Linked DNA regions of Homo sapiens. The protein of the gene in region 1 interacts with the protein of each later gene in a pairwise test. Each region holds a gene or a part of one and is shown in the gene's direction. Other genes may lie near its edges.

Evidence for each region. The genes of interacting proteins can lie anywhere in the genome.
Region 2: the proteins of SCMH1 (region 1) and SFMBT1 interact in binary tests that used the Homo sapiens proteins (3 or more experiments, as listed by UniProt).

What each region holds. Positions count from the first base shown.
Region 1 is NC_000001.11:41,239,298-41,246,844, reverse strand, and holds the start of SCMH1 (polycomb protein SCMH1), read left to right. Parts: upstream 1-4,538; 5' UTR 4,539-4,786; intron 4,787-7,547. UniProt on the Homo sapiens protein: Associates with Polycomb group (PcG) multiprotein complexes; the complex class is required to maintain the transcriptionally repressive state of some genes.
Region 2 is NC_000003.12:53,043,074-53,049,921, reverse strand, and holds the start of SFMBT1 (scm-like with four MBT domains protein 1), read left to right. Parts: upstream 1-3,848; 5' UTR 3,849-4,106; intron 4,107-6,848. UniProt on the Homo sapiens protein: Histone-binding protein, which is part of various corepressor complexes. Mediates the recruitment of corepressor complexes to target genes, followed by chromatin compaction and repression of transcription.

The sequences.
Region 1 (7,547 bases):
ATCTCTGGGCTCAATGAACCCTCCTCTGCCTTCTCCATATTACAGAGGACATTGCAAAGTCCTCTGTAATAGCCTTTTTTGCATTGTCATGGTCCCTTGTAGACTGAGATCCTTAAAGACACGGATTGTACTTTACATTTATTTGCATTCCCAGTTCCTGGCACATAATAGGAGTTCCATAGATATGTGTGGAATAGAATTGAGGCCTAATCCTTTTCCACATGTTAGCCCTTCAATTATCTGAAGACCCTTCTAAGGCCTTGCCCTACCCCACTCTACTCCCATTAGTAGTTATTTCTTCTGCAGGCTAAATGTTCCCAACTCCTTTCAGCTGCTCCTTATAAAGTCTGATTTCCAGATTCCTTATCTGGTCATTTGCTTCTGGGTCATAATTTGTCAACATCACTCTTTTAAAATATAATGCCTAGGACAAACTCAATAGCCCAAAGTCTGGCCATAGCAGAACAAAGTGAGGGGATTCCAAACTGTGATTCCAATCTATGACGTTTTCTTGGCCATTACTGTGTGCCAGGAGGTCTTTCTACTTTATTTTCTTTCAGTCTTCAATAATCTGGTGAGGTAGGTGTCATTTCTTCCATTTTATAGATGAGGATATAAGCCATCTGGTAAGGCACTTTGAGAATAAGTTAAAGTCACAATTCCAGAGCATAAAGCAAACTTGTGATCAACTGATACCTTTAGATCATTCGTACATCAACTGCTGTAAAGTTATTATTTTTTCCAGTTACCGGCTAGTGACAGGCTTAAGGGAAACTGAGGACAAAGAATCAGTACCTTTAGAAGGGTGTGAAACCAAAGCATACAGAAAAGGCAGGTTGGATTAATGACCACCTTCCTAACAATAACAGCCTTTATCTAGGAGCTCAGAGACTGGAATGTCTTAACCACACAGCTTCCTGGAACTATTTTTACTTTGTATTTTACAAGAGGAGAAAGAGCAGAAGCGTCTTAGATAAACAACAAGGTTTGGGCTCAGCACATGTCTGAATCTGAACAGCCAGTGGGGCCCTGTGGTCACAAGGCAGATAATAAGGAGGTTGCCTCTTTGGTCTGTGGCTTGGGTCTGAAAGGGTCCTACTGTGCACATTCATTCTATAAATATAGACTGATCACCAAATGTGTTCCAGGTATGGTGCGAGGTGCTGTGGATGTAATGAAGAACAAAGACAGAGTTCCAATCTGTGGAGCTTACAGTCAGGTGAAAGATAAGCATAAATGAAAATGATATGCACAGATCCTAGTAAATGCAATGATGAATGAAGGTGCCAGGCTACAAGGAGAGCGAAAGGAGGGGCATTTAATTTATCCTGGGGTGAGGATGGAAGAGAAGGTATCAGAGGAAGTTCCTGGGGAAGGTAGTCTTAATTGATGTGTAGGACTTAATGTGGTGAAGGCTCTTATGTATTTCAATGCATCCCCCCCACACCCCGCAACACACATACTTTCTTTAAGCATCAGAAACCATCTTTCCCATTTCCTTTACCAACTCTTCTACTGGGTCATCAACAACATGAAAAAAAACAAAAACAAAAAACAAAACAAAAACTACTGTTTTTGTCAGTTCTGTCAGTGCCAGAATAATCACTCCTTTTTGCTGTAATGTAATGTAGAAAAGAGCAGACCTGGGGTTTCCTAGCATACCTCCTTTAAAAAAAAATTACATCCTGATTAACTTGCCTATTTCTTCCCTCTCCATTGCCTCTGTATTTCTTGGCTTCCCCACACCTGTAACCCAAAGGTCACAGGGTCTGTCATAGCCCAATTCCACTCTCCAGTTGCCTCTTGGTTTTTAACCCCCCTTATTAAAATCCAAACATTAAGCAACTAATAACACCCATGTGTAATTAGTTGTTTAATTGAACAGCACAGAACTGTTAATACATTATGCTGTGCCCTGGAATATTAAGTGGAATAAAAGCAAAGTACTATATTCAAGGAAACTACAGTCTGACTTAAAATACTACAATGGGAAACATTTCACACAGAGATTTTTACCAAGTGACAGTGGAGAGGAGGGAGAAATGAGTTCTTCCTGAGAAGTGTCAGAGAAGTTCTGAGCTGGATCTAAAAAAGAAGCAGGAGGCTGGGTGTGGTGGCTCACGCCTGTAATCCCAGCACTTTGGGAGGCCAAGGAGGGCGGATCACAAGGTCAGGAGATTGAGACCATCCTGGCTAACATGGTGAAACGCTGTCTCTACTAAAAATACAAAAAATTAGCTGGGCGTGGTGGCAGGCGCCTGTAGTCCCACCTACTCAGGAGGCTGAGGCAGGAGAATGGCGTGAACCCGGAAGATGGAGCTTGCAGTGAGCCGAGATCATGCCACTGCACTCCAAACTGGATGACAGAGCGAGACTCCATCTCAAAAAAAAAAAAAAGCAGGAATCCAAAGGACAATATGCATAATATTTATTTATTTTTAGCAGATGTGGGAATATCTCCCTCATGCCAAGCCTTATCTAAGGCTACAGGTGTGAATAAGGTTCCTGATCTCAAGACGCTTTCAGCCTAGAAAAGAGGTTTAGAAATATACTCCAATAATGGCAACATATATGGTGCCATGGACAGAGTTACAGAACAAACTGCTAGGGGAATTCATAGAGAAAATGTTCAAGAGAACATTTCTCACTGGACGTAGTAGGCAGAATTCTAAGGTAGCTTCCTAGATTAACCTTCATGTACACCTTCTGCATAGTCCCTGGGACAGTGGCTATGATGAATTTTACTCCTGTGATTAGGGTATGTGATGTGGCACAGGTGATCTTAAAGTAGGAAGATTATCTAGGTGGGTCTGACCTAATTACAAGTCTTTTAAAAGCTCATAGTGTTCTCTGACTGGTTGAAGAAGGGAAATCAGAGATATTTAAAGAATGAGAGGGAGTGACATGAGAAAGGTTCTCTGTTGATGAGATAAAAGGGATCACGTGGCAAGGACCTGAGAGTGGTCCCCAACAGAGAGCTGGCAAAACAGTGTAGCTGTGGGATCCTAGTCCTACAGGGACATGAATTCTGCCAACAGCCCGAAGGAGCCTGGGGCAGACCTTTCCCTCGTGGAGGTGCTAGACATCTTGATTTCAGCCTATGACACCACGAGCAGAAAACCCAGCCACACCATGCCAGTTTTCCGACCTACACAACTGTGAGTAAATCAATGGGTGTTGCTTTAAGCTGCAAAATTTGTGCCAATTTGTTATGCAGGAATAGAAAACTAATATGAGCACTTACAACACTGTGCTCTCATTAGCTATTGACATAATAGTTTCCCCAAATATGGGCTCCTTAGATTTAGGCTCTAATTATCCTTGTAACCTCAGGGCTCTTCATGAGACAGGTACTCCCCAAAACGCCATGGAATGAAAGTTTAAATTAGACAACAGGGATGCAGATCAGAACCTGGATAGATTCTGACCATTTCCATTTCTCAAGAATGGGCAGACGGATACTGACACCAATACCAGGATACAAGGAGGCGGCCCCCCTTCAGTCCAAAGCTCTAAGACCTATTCTAGAGGCAAGGCAAGTAATCCAGGCTCAGCTGCCCCATCTGCTGCTCCAGCCTTGCTTAAGTGGACTTCCCTCCAAGGAACATTGTTCACAGAAGGATCATTAACAAGACATTCCTGTGTGACCTGAGGATTGCCATGTTCTAAATGATGCCCACACCCACTCCACATCCAGCTCAGCAGAGGTCTCGGGATTTATATTGCACTGTATTTTCAAGCAGCCAAAACAGAAGTCAAGACGTCAGTTTCCTAAGCTGCTAAAATGATGTGGTGGTTAAACCAATTGTGTGCCAGGCGCAGTGGCTCACGCCTGTAGTCCCAGCGCTTTGGGAGGCTGACGCAGGAGGATCACTTGAGCCCAGTAATTTGAGGTTACAGTGAGCTATGATGGCGCCACTGCACTCCGACCTTGGGGACAAAGTGAGGCTCCATCTCTAACAAAACAAAAATAGAATTGTGTAGCCAACATGGCTGGTGGGCCTGGAAGAATGAGCCTGTGCATTGTACCTGGCCCATCACGGGCTCAGTGCGTACTCGTTGAAGGGATCACCACAGGGAGGACCGAGGACGCTGACACTCCCTAGGGCATCCAAGCACCAACTCATCTCTCACCTACCCTCCGGGTGCAGTGCTATCGTGTTGGAGAAGAGGCCCCTGGGTGGCTGTGCGAAGTAACTCGCCCAAGGTCACCACACGGCCAGCCACTAGCCCGGCGGGAGTCGCCCGAGGCGAGGCCCACGTCAGCCGGTCTTGGGGGCCCGACCGGTGGCTCCTCCACCAGCCCCACGCGGCCTCAGAGCGGGCTACTGGCGTCCTCGAGATTCGAACCCGAGTCCTCGGCCTCGTCCCCGCCCTCGCGCCCTCTCAGGCCTCAGTTTTCCCATCTACAGGACGCAGACCGGAGAGCTGGTCCGGGCGCCAACTGGGCCCCCGGACCCGGGTCGGCAGGCCGGCGGGGTACGGCCGGGCCGGGTTCCCGCGCGCCCTCCCTCCTCCAGCGCGCCGCCCCGCCCCCCGCGCGAGCCCAACGGCCGAGGCGCGCGCCACCTCGCAGCGGGAGGCGCGGGGGAGGGGCCGGGGGAGCCCCCGCCCCGCCCCCCGCCTCAGCCGCCACCGCCAGCTCGGTGGAGCCCCCCGCCGCCCGCCCGCCGCTCTCCCGAGCCGCCCGCCCGCCCCCTTCCCGCGTCTCCGCTCCCTCCCTGCGCAGCGGAAACATGGCGGCGGGAAGAGAGTGAGCCGCCCCGCGCCCCCGCCGCGCCCTCAGGTAAGCGCCTCGCGGCCGCCTCCGCCCGCCTAAGAGCTCGTGCCCTGAGGGGCCGCCTGGGGCCAGAAGGCGGTGGCGGGACCTGCGCAGCCGCTGCGCCTGCTCCCCCGGGCCGGGGTCAGCCTGTCCGTCTGTCTGGCCGGCCTGCCAGTCTGTGGTCCGCGCGGGGCTGGGCCCTTTCTCGGCCGTGTCAGCCCGGCCCCGAGCCCGGAGGCCGGCTCTGCATCTGCGGTCGGGCGGGCGGGGCCCACGGTCCGGTCGCGGCCCTGACGCCGCCAGGACTGCCCGGGGGCCCCGGCACGGGAAACCCAAGGCCGGGGGCCCTTTGGAGGGTCGGCGTGGGGGCGGTCCGTATAGGTCGCCGTGTCTGGCCGGCGGGGCCGGGTGGGCCGGGGCAGGCTGGCTGGGGGCCGAGGGCCGGGCGGCGGCGCGACCCCGTCTGCGCGGGTCAGTCGGTCCCCTCCGGCGCCAGAGGTGGGAATGCCTGTGATTCTGGCTGGCCGGGTCCCGGTTCGGGGAAGGCAGAGACAGAGGTCGACGGGGCGGCGTGGCCCCCACCGAGAGCTGGGGCGCCTAGGGCCCGGAGCTGTCAGCAGCGTCCTGGGGGCTGGGCCCCGGCTGGCCGACTCACGTGTGCCGCCTGCCCCAGTGCCCCGCCGGAAACGGGCAGGGAGAGCGGCCCCGCACCGAAGTGAGCCACAGCGGCCCTGGGGGCCAGACACGTGGGCACAGTTGTGTGCCAGCCCGAGAGCATCGAAAGTGGTATCCAGCCGATGGGTGAACCCCGGAATATCTCCTGACTGGAAGAGAATTTAAAAGTCATCTAGGGGCGCTTTCTCCCATCCCATGCCAAAGTGACTTTGAAAATCCCCAAATCCCCCCGATAATTTGACGAGCCCGTTTGGAACCTCTTCCAGTGATCCGAAGCGAATCTCTTTAAAGGAAACCCATTCTGTTCCTGGACACATTTGGTTATAAGTTGAAAGAAACAGCTGGCTCCCATCCTTCCTAGTTCTTTTCCCTTATGGGAAGCTGTTAAGATATCTGAAGATAGTAATCATGTCCCCTGAGTCTTCACTTCCACTTTCTTCAGTTGTCTCTCATCTGCTGTGGTTCTCTAAACTGTCCTCTGGATGAGCTTTAGTTTCCCCCATCCCCTTAAAGGAGAGTTTCTTAAAAGTGATCCTGGAGACAAAACGTAGTAAGTTTCTCTAAGAAACAGCCCCAAGGATTGACCTGCTTAAATCAAAAGTACTCTAGATTCCCTTCCTCATTTCTGTACTGTATTTTGAACTTAAAAAAAAAAAAAAAAGAAAACATTTAGTAGTGTTTGTTCAAACAAACTAAAAGACATCTTATTTTGTGGAAATTTGGGGGTTTCCTTCCTTTTAAAAAATGTCTATAAACACTTTATCAAATGTTGCTAACTAATGTACATCAAAATGTTTTGTTGAAGTGTAATGTGCCAGGCAAATAGAATAGCTCTTTTTTTTTTTTTAAACTCTGAAAAGGATTGAGACCTAGTTTAGTGCCAAACTGCAATTTTAATATTTGGTTGCAGAGGGAAATGCTTTATTACATTGAACTCTTTGCTCTAGTTCTAACTGCCAGCAGGAGGCCCAAAATTACTATGAAAGAGAACACTTTTTGTTGCTTACTTACCAACCTCCTAAACTCTTGCCTAAGCAACTCTGCAGGTTAGTAATGTTTTAAGCCCAGTAGAGATGAGATGGCCTTGTAGATAAAAGGCCAGGCTCTTACATCTGGGATCCTGTTTAAGTACTAAGCAAAGTTTCAGTGTTTTTACAACTTAGACAAGCACATACCAGCAGTCAGAATTGGTTCTTTATTTTTGTTCTTAAGCCTTCATTTTTTAAATTGGTCAATAGTTTTGAACTTTGTAGCACATATGTCAAGTTTTGATTTTAGGTATGTTTGTGCAAATGTTGTTCCCTTTTATGTAAGTTGGGTAAACATTTGCATAGCACCATTCTCAATGGAACTATACAGATCCAGAGGAAAGGCCCTGATTCCTTCCTTGCAAAGGACTTGGAGTGAAAGGTAGAGGATACTTAACTATGAGAAAGAATTGATGTGAATATCCCACTGAAAATTTAAACTTAGGGCTGGATGCAGGGGCTCATGCCTATAATCCCAGCACTTTGGGAAGCTGAGGCAGGCAACTCTTTGAGGCCAGGAGTTCTGGACCAGCCTGGGCTACGTAGCAAGACCCTGTCTCTACAAAAAATAAAAATAAAAATATAGCTGGGCATGATGGTGTATGTCTGTAGTCTCAGCTACTCAGGAGGCTGAGGCAGGAGGACCGTTTGAGTCAAGGAGTTTGAGGCTTCAGTGAGCCATGATCACGCCATAGCAAGTGACAGAATGAGACCCCATCTTTTAAAAAAGAAAAGAAAATTGGTATGTTCTAACCTTCACTGTACACTTATGTACCTACTATGGGTCAAGCACTATGCTATGTACTGTGCTCAGCTGGGTTTACAAAGATTTCCAATCTTGTGGAGCTGGTAAATTAGATGCTTAAATAGATTATCTCAGAATAAAAGATGAGAACTACGCATAGCTGAGATATACAAGGTGAGAGTAAAGGTTGCCCAAAGGTGAGGGCACTTAGACTAGCCTAGGAGTTAAAGGAAGGCTTTGGGAAGAGATGATATCTGACCCAAATCTTAAATGGTAGGTAGGAGTAAGTGAGGCAAACATGAGCAGAAAGCGTCCTTCAAACAGAGAAAACAGCTTG
Region 2 (6,848 bases), on another chromosome or scaffold:
AGCCCAGGAGTTCAAGACCAGCCTGGGCAACATGGCAAAATCCTGTCTCTACAAAAGATACAAAAATTAGCTGAGCATGGTGGTGCACACCTGTAGTCCCAGCTACTCGGGGCTGAGGCGGGAGGACTGCTTGAGCCTGGGAGGTAGAGGCTGCAGTGAGCCATGATAGCACCATTGCACTGCAGCCTGGGTGACCGAGTGAGACCCTCTCTCAAAAAAAATTTTAAAAAGGCTGGGTGCGGTGGCTCACACCTGTAATCCCAGCACTTTGGGAGGCTGAGGCGGGTGGATCATAAGGTCAGGAGTTCGAGACCAGACTGACCAACATGGTGAAACCCCGTCTCTACTAAAAATACAAAAATTAGCCGGGTGTGGTAGCGTGCGCCTGTAATCCCAGCTACTGAGGAGGCTGAGGCTGGAGAATCGCTTGCACCCAGGAGGCAGAGGTTGCAGTGAGCCAAGATTGCACCACTGCACTCCAGCCTGGGTGACAGAGCGAGACTCTGTCTCAAAAAAATCATTAACAATAGCTAACATTTACAAAACTTTTACTATGTCCTAGGCGTTGAGCTTGTGAGGCAGCTGTTAATCTTTTTTTTTTTTTTTTTTTTGAGTTGGAGTCTTGCTGTCACCCAGGCTGGAGTGCAGTGGCACGATCTTGGCTCACTGCAAGCTCCGTCTCCCGGGTTCACGCCATTCTCCTGCCTCAGCCTCCCGAGTAGCTGGGACTACAAGCGCCCACCACTACACCTGGCTAATTTTTTTGTATTTTTAGTAGAGACAGAGTTTCACCATGTTAGCCAGGATGGGCTCGATCTCCTGACCTCGTAATCTGCCCACCTCGGCCTCCCAAAGTGCTGGGATTACAGGCGTGAGCCACTGCGCCAGGCCAGAGGCAGCTGTTACTCTTATCCTAATTTTACAGACCAAGACCTGAAGGCCCAGAGGGGATAGATAAGTTGCCAAGGTCACAGGGCTGGTTGTTGAACCTGGATGGTCCGTCCTCAAAGCCAGTCCTCTTAACCCTTATATGATTATCCTAGGATGTGTAGAGACACATAAACCAGTGTGGATATCAACTGATAATCTGAAAAAAGAAGACCTCATAAGGGCATGAGAGGGAATCAAGCCTTTTCATATGTTAGAACCTATTCCAAAGAACCAATATTTAGATTCATATGGTATTTGCTCAAACTGAGGTCTAAGGAAGGAAATGGAGAATTCAGAAATATATTAATCAAAATAGAAAGTCTAGCGTAAAAGTAGATTTTACTAAACAAAGGAATTTTTTTTTTTTTTGAGTTGGAGTCTCGCTTTGTCGCCCAGGCTGGAGTGCAGTGGCGCGATCTCAGCTCACTGCAAGCTCGGCCTCCCAGATTCACGCCATTCTCCTGCCTCAGCCTCCGGAGTAGCTGGGACTACAGGCGCCCGCCACCATGCCTGGCTAATTTTTTTGTATTTTTAGTAGAGACGGGGTTTCACTGTGTTAGCCAGGATGGTCTCAATCTCCTGACCTCGTGATCTACCCGTCTCGGCCTCCCAAAGTGCTGGGATTATAGGCGTGAGCCATGGCGCCCGGCCTTTTTTTTTTTTTTTGAGATGGAGTCTTGCTCTGTCACCCAGGTGGAGTGCACTGGCACAATCACGGCTCACTGCAGCCTAAAACTCCTGGCCTGAAGTGATCCTCCTGCCTCAACCTCCCAAAATGCTAGGACTACAGGTGTAAGTCACCACGTCTGGTCAATAATTATTTAATAAATGGTAACTGCAGAATTAATAACAACCGATGACAGTGGTAGTGAGTTATGTCCATATTTTACTCCAAATAAATAAGCCAAAATAAAATCGGGATAGTCATCAGAGAATGAAATATGAAATGAAATTGTACAAAACTAGCAGAAAAAAGACTATCAGATGGGCAGCAGAAAGCTCACTTTGTCAGCACTGAAGCAATTAAAACATTAGAATGACACACTGAACATTAGAATAAAACAAGAAAGAACAACAGGCTAGAAAATATTTGCATCAATGACGACAAAGAAGTAATATCTGTAACATAAAAAAATGCTTGTTCAAAGTTAGAAGAGGTTCAAGTCCCCAGAAGATGGATATGAATAGATTATTCACAGGAGAGGGAATGCATATAGTAAATGCATGGAAAAACATTCATTTTTGAATGTTGTGTCACCTAAGAAATGCTAAGTAACCTTGAACTAGCAATAGACTATTAAAGTAGGGGGGAAATGGCACTCAATGTTTATAAGTGTGTTAAACTCCTTACACTTGTTCCTTGGAGGCGGTAGAATAATTGGGGCAGCTCTTGGGAAAAATATGACGCTGTAAGCCAAGACCACTTGGCCATTCATAGCCTTCTACCTGGGAGCCTTTCCACTCCCAGGTATTTGTCCCAAGTGCAGAATTCAAGGATACGTTAGCAAACAACCGTAAAGAACCAAAAACATTAGGGGGCTGAGTGAATAGTTAAGGACACCTGCACACCTTAAAAATGAATCGTGAACAAATAAAAATGGTAGTGAAAGTAGTAACAAAAAAAGTGTGGTTGCAACTATACACAGTATATATATGTTTCATGTCGTGAAAAGTTGCATTTCTTTGTAACAATATGGATTACTGTATTCTTTTTAGATTTTTCTTTCTCCGGTTGTCATATTGTTTTTTCAGTGGTGCTAAAAAAAATCTGGATTCAAATCCAGCCAGCAGCGTGACTTTGAGCAAGTTTGTGAAGTGGGATATTTCTCAGAGCGGTTGAGGGAGGTGGCTTGAGCTCGCACCTGGCACACGGTGAGAACCCCAGACTTTCTTCTTGCTGTGGGGGCGCCTCTGGGCCCTGTCCGATAACGCCTTTCACGGCCTGGGAGTCTGATCGGGAGCTCCCGGGTCTCGGTGGCGCGGGAACTCCCTTCTGGAGGGAACTTTCCGGAGCAGGTGGGCGGGTGTATGTCCCACGGGCACCTGCGCTCAGGAGGAGGGGGCGAGCTCGGGCAACGTAACCGCCCACGGTCACCTCGGGCTGCGGGGCCGACTTGAAGCCGCCTTCGAGGTTCTGATCCTTCCCGGGGCTCTGGGCTCGTTCGTCCCAATTCGCAGCTGTCCTGTGCCCCCTCGCTGCAGGAAGACTCAAGATTTACAGGGCGCCTCCTGCGGAAGCCTAGAGACATCGGGGGCGCCGAAGGGCCCGCGCCGGACTTCGCAGACAGGGGGCACTTGGGTGCCCTTTCAGGTCTCAGAGGGAGCGCCCGATCCCCGACGAGGGGCAGGCAAACGGGCGCAGTGCCCGCGGCGGCGGCACGCGCGCATCTGGGATCCGGCCGCTTCTCCGCTCATGCCATCTTGTCCGAGCCAGTCACGTGCGGGCGACAGCGGCGCGCTTCGCCGGGCCGGTACTCCAGGTCCGACCCGCGAACCCCTCTGGGATCCCCGCCGCTCTGTCTACAACCCGAGGTGAGGCGCAGGCTGGATCGGGGCTGGGCCAGGGCGGGCACTGGGTTCCCGGGGACGCGTCTCCTCTTCCGGGCCGTTCCGCTCGGGGCCACAGCGCCGTCGGGGGCCCGAGGCGCCGCCGCGTGTCCTGCGCCACGGCCTCGGGGCCGTCCGCGCCGAGTTGCTGGCTGGGGGCGTGGGTGGCCCGCGGCGCCGGACCCCCGGCACACCAGCCCGCGGAGTCCTTGCCTCCCGCGCGGCCCCAGCCAGGAGGGATGGCGCTGGGGCGGGAGCGGGGCAGCCGGGCCCGGGAGCTCCACGGGCGCGGCGCGAGGGGCGCAGGCTGCCTGGAGGACCGCGGAGCTGGGGGTGGGGGGGCGCGGGCGCATGCGCCCTGCGTCCGTGCCATATTGGAATGAGTCGGAGCGCGGAGCGCCGCCGCCGCCTCCGCCGGAGCGCGGGTGGAGGGGGGCGGGGAGAGCTGCCGGCCGCCCCGCTCCGCCGAACCCAGCAGGAAGGAGGGCGCGAGCGGGCGAGCGCGGGCAGCACGGGAGGAAAAAGCTTCCGCGCGGGGGAGCGAAAAGACGGAAAGAAAGAAAGAAAACGAGCGCGAGAGGGGGAAAAGCGAGCGATCGAGCGAGCGCGCGCGCGAAAACTCCGGGCAGGTAAAAAAGCGGGGCCACCGGCTGGGCCTTCCCGCGCGGCGGCCTGGAGGGGCGGCGGCGGCGCCGGGGCGGGGGACCGTACGGCGTCCCCTTCGAAGCGGCCGCGCAACTTTGCCAACGGGAAACCGCCGGGCGCCGGCGGGCGCGCGGGCTGAGGCGCCAACGGGCGGCGGCGGCGGCACGTTGGGGGCGGGGGCGGGGCGGGGGGAGCGCGGCGCCCGCGCGCGGCCCCGCGGTCCCGCGCGCCGGCCGGCCGGCTGCAGGGGCGCGCCTGGGCGCCTCGCCGCGGCGGAGAGCGGCGGCGGCCGTCAGCCCCTGGCAGGCAGCGCGGCGCGCGTCAGCCCGCGGGAGGCGTGAAAGGAAAGTGGCCGGGCGGCGGCAGTGGCGGGCGCCCAAGTTCCCCGGCGCGCCGGGCCCGCCGCGCGCCCCTCCCCGCGCGCGCCCCGCGCTCCGCCCGCCGAGCCCCCGCGGACCCGCCCCCCGGGCTCGCTCCGGGCGGGGCGCGAACCCGCAGCTGGGGCCGGGCGCGCGGCCGGTCGGAACTTCGGAGGGCCCGGGCGGTCGCTGCGCGGTGGCGGAGCGTCTAGTGGCCGCCGCAACCGGTGGCTCCGGGCCGCCGTTGTGAAGTGAGCGGGCCTCTCCCGCGCCGCGGCCCGCCGGGCACCGCCGCTGGACCCCGCGCCGACCCGGCAGCGCCCCGACCTGCCGCTCGGGAGGTCCGCGACCGTTTCGATTTCTGTTCCTAAAGTCCGATTTTGGACGCTGAAAAGGAGGCTGTGGAGGGGCGAGCGGCGTCCTGGGAAGCAAGGCCTGCTCTGTGCGGAGCAGAAACGCCTTGTGCGAACAGAAATAAATTCCCGCGGAAAGGATGTACGTTATGCTAAGTTTTTCACAAGATGTCAGCTGTTCCCGTAGGGTCTAAAACTAAGCCGGCAGGCACAGGTCACCCCCAGAGCTTGTGCTCAAGGAGTGGTGGACGCTTGGGTCAGGTGGGGGTGTTCCCAGCGGGTCGCCCGAAGCAGCACTGGTTGATGGTCCCAAGTGGTGTTTTTGAGTCCTGTTAGCAGTGATCTGTGTTTGAGAACCAAGTAACCATCAAAGAGATTCGAAAGGAAGTAAGATGGATTTTGTCAATCCCTGCGTATGTCTTCTCTTGAACCACATTTTCTAAGATGTCATTCTTAATTTTATTGCATCTGGGTAAAATGCCTGAACGTGTAATCATTAATTTGTCAACTGGCGAGAGGATGAAGGAAGATGTGTCTTCATGTGTACACTTTGAGGCCTGTTGACTAGCGTTTTGAGGCATTTGTTGAATTAGGCCGTAGGTAGATTCGGAGTTAAGATTTGTTTGCGATGTCAGAAAAGTTACGGCCTGGTAGAAACGGCCAGAGATCAGGAAACAGTTCTGTTATTACCGTTGTCATTGACTAACTGCCTTATCTTGGGCACATTTCTTACCCATTGTAGCTTTGATTTTCCTTATTTGCAACATTAAGATAAACAGATGATGTTTGGGGGTGCTTTCAGTTCGAAAATTCGGTGGCTTTCTTAACTGAAAGATTCTTAGAAATCACAGTGTATATTTTGAGAGGTACTACATAAAAGTGCTCGCAATGTGTGTCTTTATTAAAATTCATTTGGAAAAAACATCTTGGTAGCTAGATCCAGAATGGTTTTATATGATTATTTGAATAGATTTTTAACAATGTATTTTTATGGAGGTATGTATAACCTACCGAAAGATCTTAAGGGTACAATTCAATGACTTTTTATATATGTATATGCCCTGATAACCACACTCAGATCAAGATATGGAACATTTTCAGGCCTTGTATCCTTTCCATTCAGTAAACACATTCCCCCTCCCCAAGGCAACCACAATTCTGACTTCTGTCACCACAGATGAGTTTTGCCTCAAAACAGGACCCTTTTGAGGGTTAAAGGGGCAATACTAACAAACTGAGGATAGCTTGTATGTAAACTTGGAGTTATGGCCGTGTTGGCCATGACCCTTTGCTTTTATAATGATTCTTAGGGTTTTTGTAATCCAGAATAACTTAAAATTCTGTCCTGAGGAACTTCTTAGAAGGTCACTTTTCAGTGGGGGCAATACTTTGCAGGTTACGATTGGTAGTTCTTGGGAGTCCTTATGTTCACAGACAATGGTATTAATCTATGACTTCCCATTTTTAGAATATAGGTACTATATATTTGTAGACAACAGATTTGAAGAATGAATCATGAATTTTCCTAACAAGTTAGAGTTTAAGGTGTCAGTAGATGAATCAGTTTCTTAATGCCTAGAATTTGCTGAGAAAATTGAATGAAAATTGGTTTCTTAAAGTTAAGTGAATTAAGAATGTGTGCGTAAAGCTTTAACAACCTTTTCAATGACAGCAGTTGACTTATATATACAGGATAGTCAGCTGGTTTATCAAATCATTTAAAGTGCAACAATGAAAGCAAAAACAAAAGGTTAACTAAAAATTATGTCAGGTGTGATTAAAAAAATCAGCATGACTAAGATACCTTTTTTTTTTTATTAACCCTCTTTCTAGGAAGGTGGACTTTTAAATATTCTCCACTGAAGCAAATGCTGCAACAATTTGCATTTCCTTCACCAATGTCGTCTTGTGCCTTTTCTTGTTCCTACTGTAAAGGAGATGGGTTAGATGTTGTAAGTGAATTCTTATTTTGTTAGTTCCTAACAAAGGCTTGTGTTTTTTACTGCAAAGATAT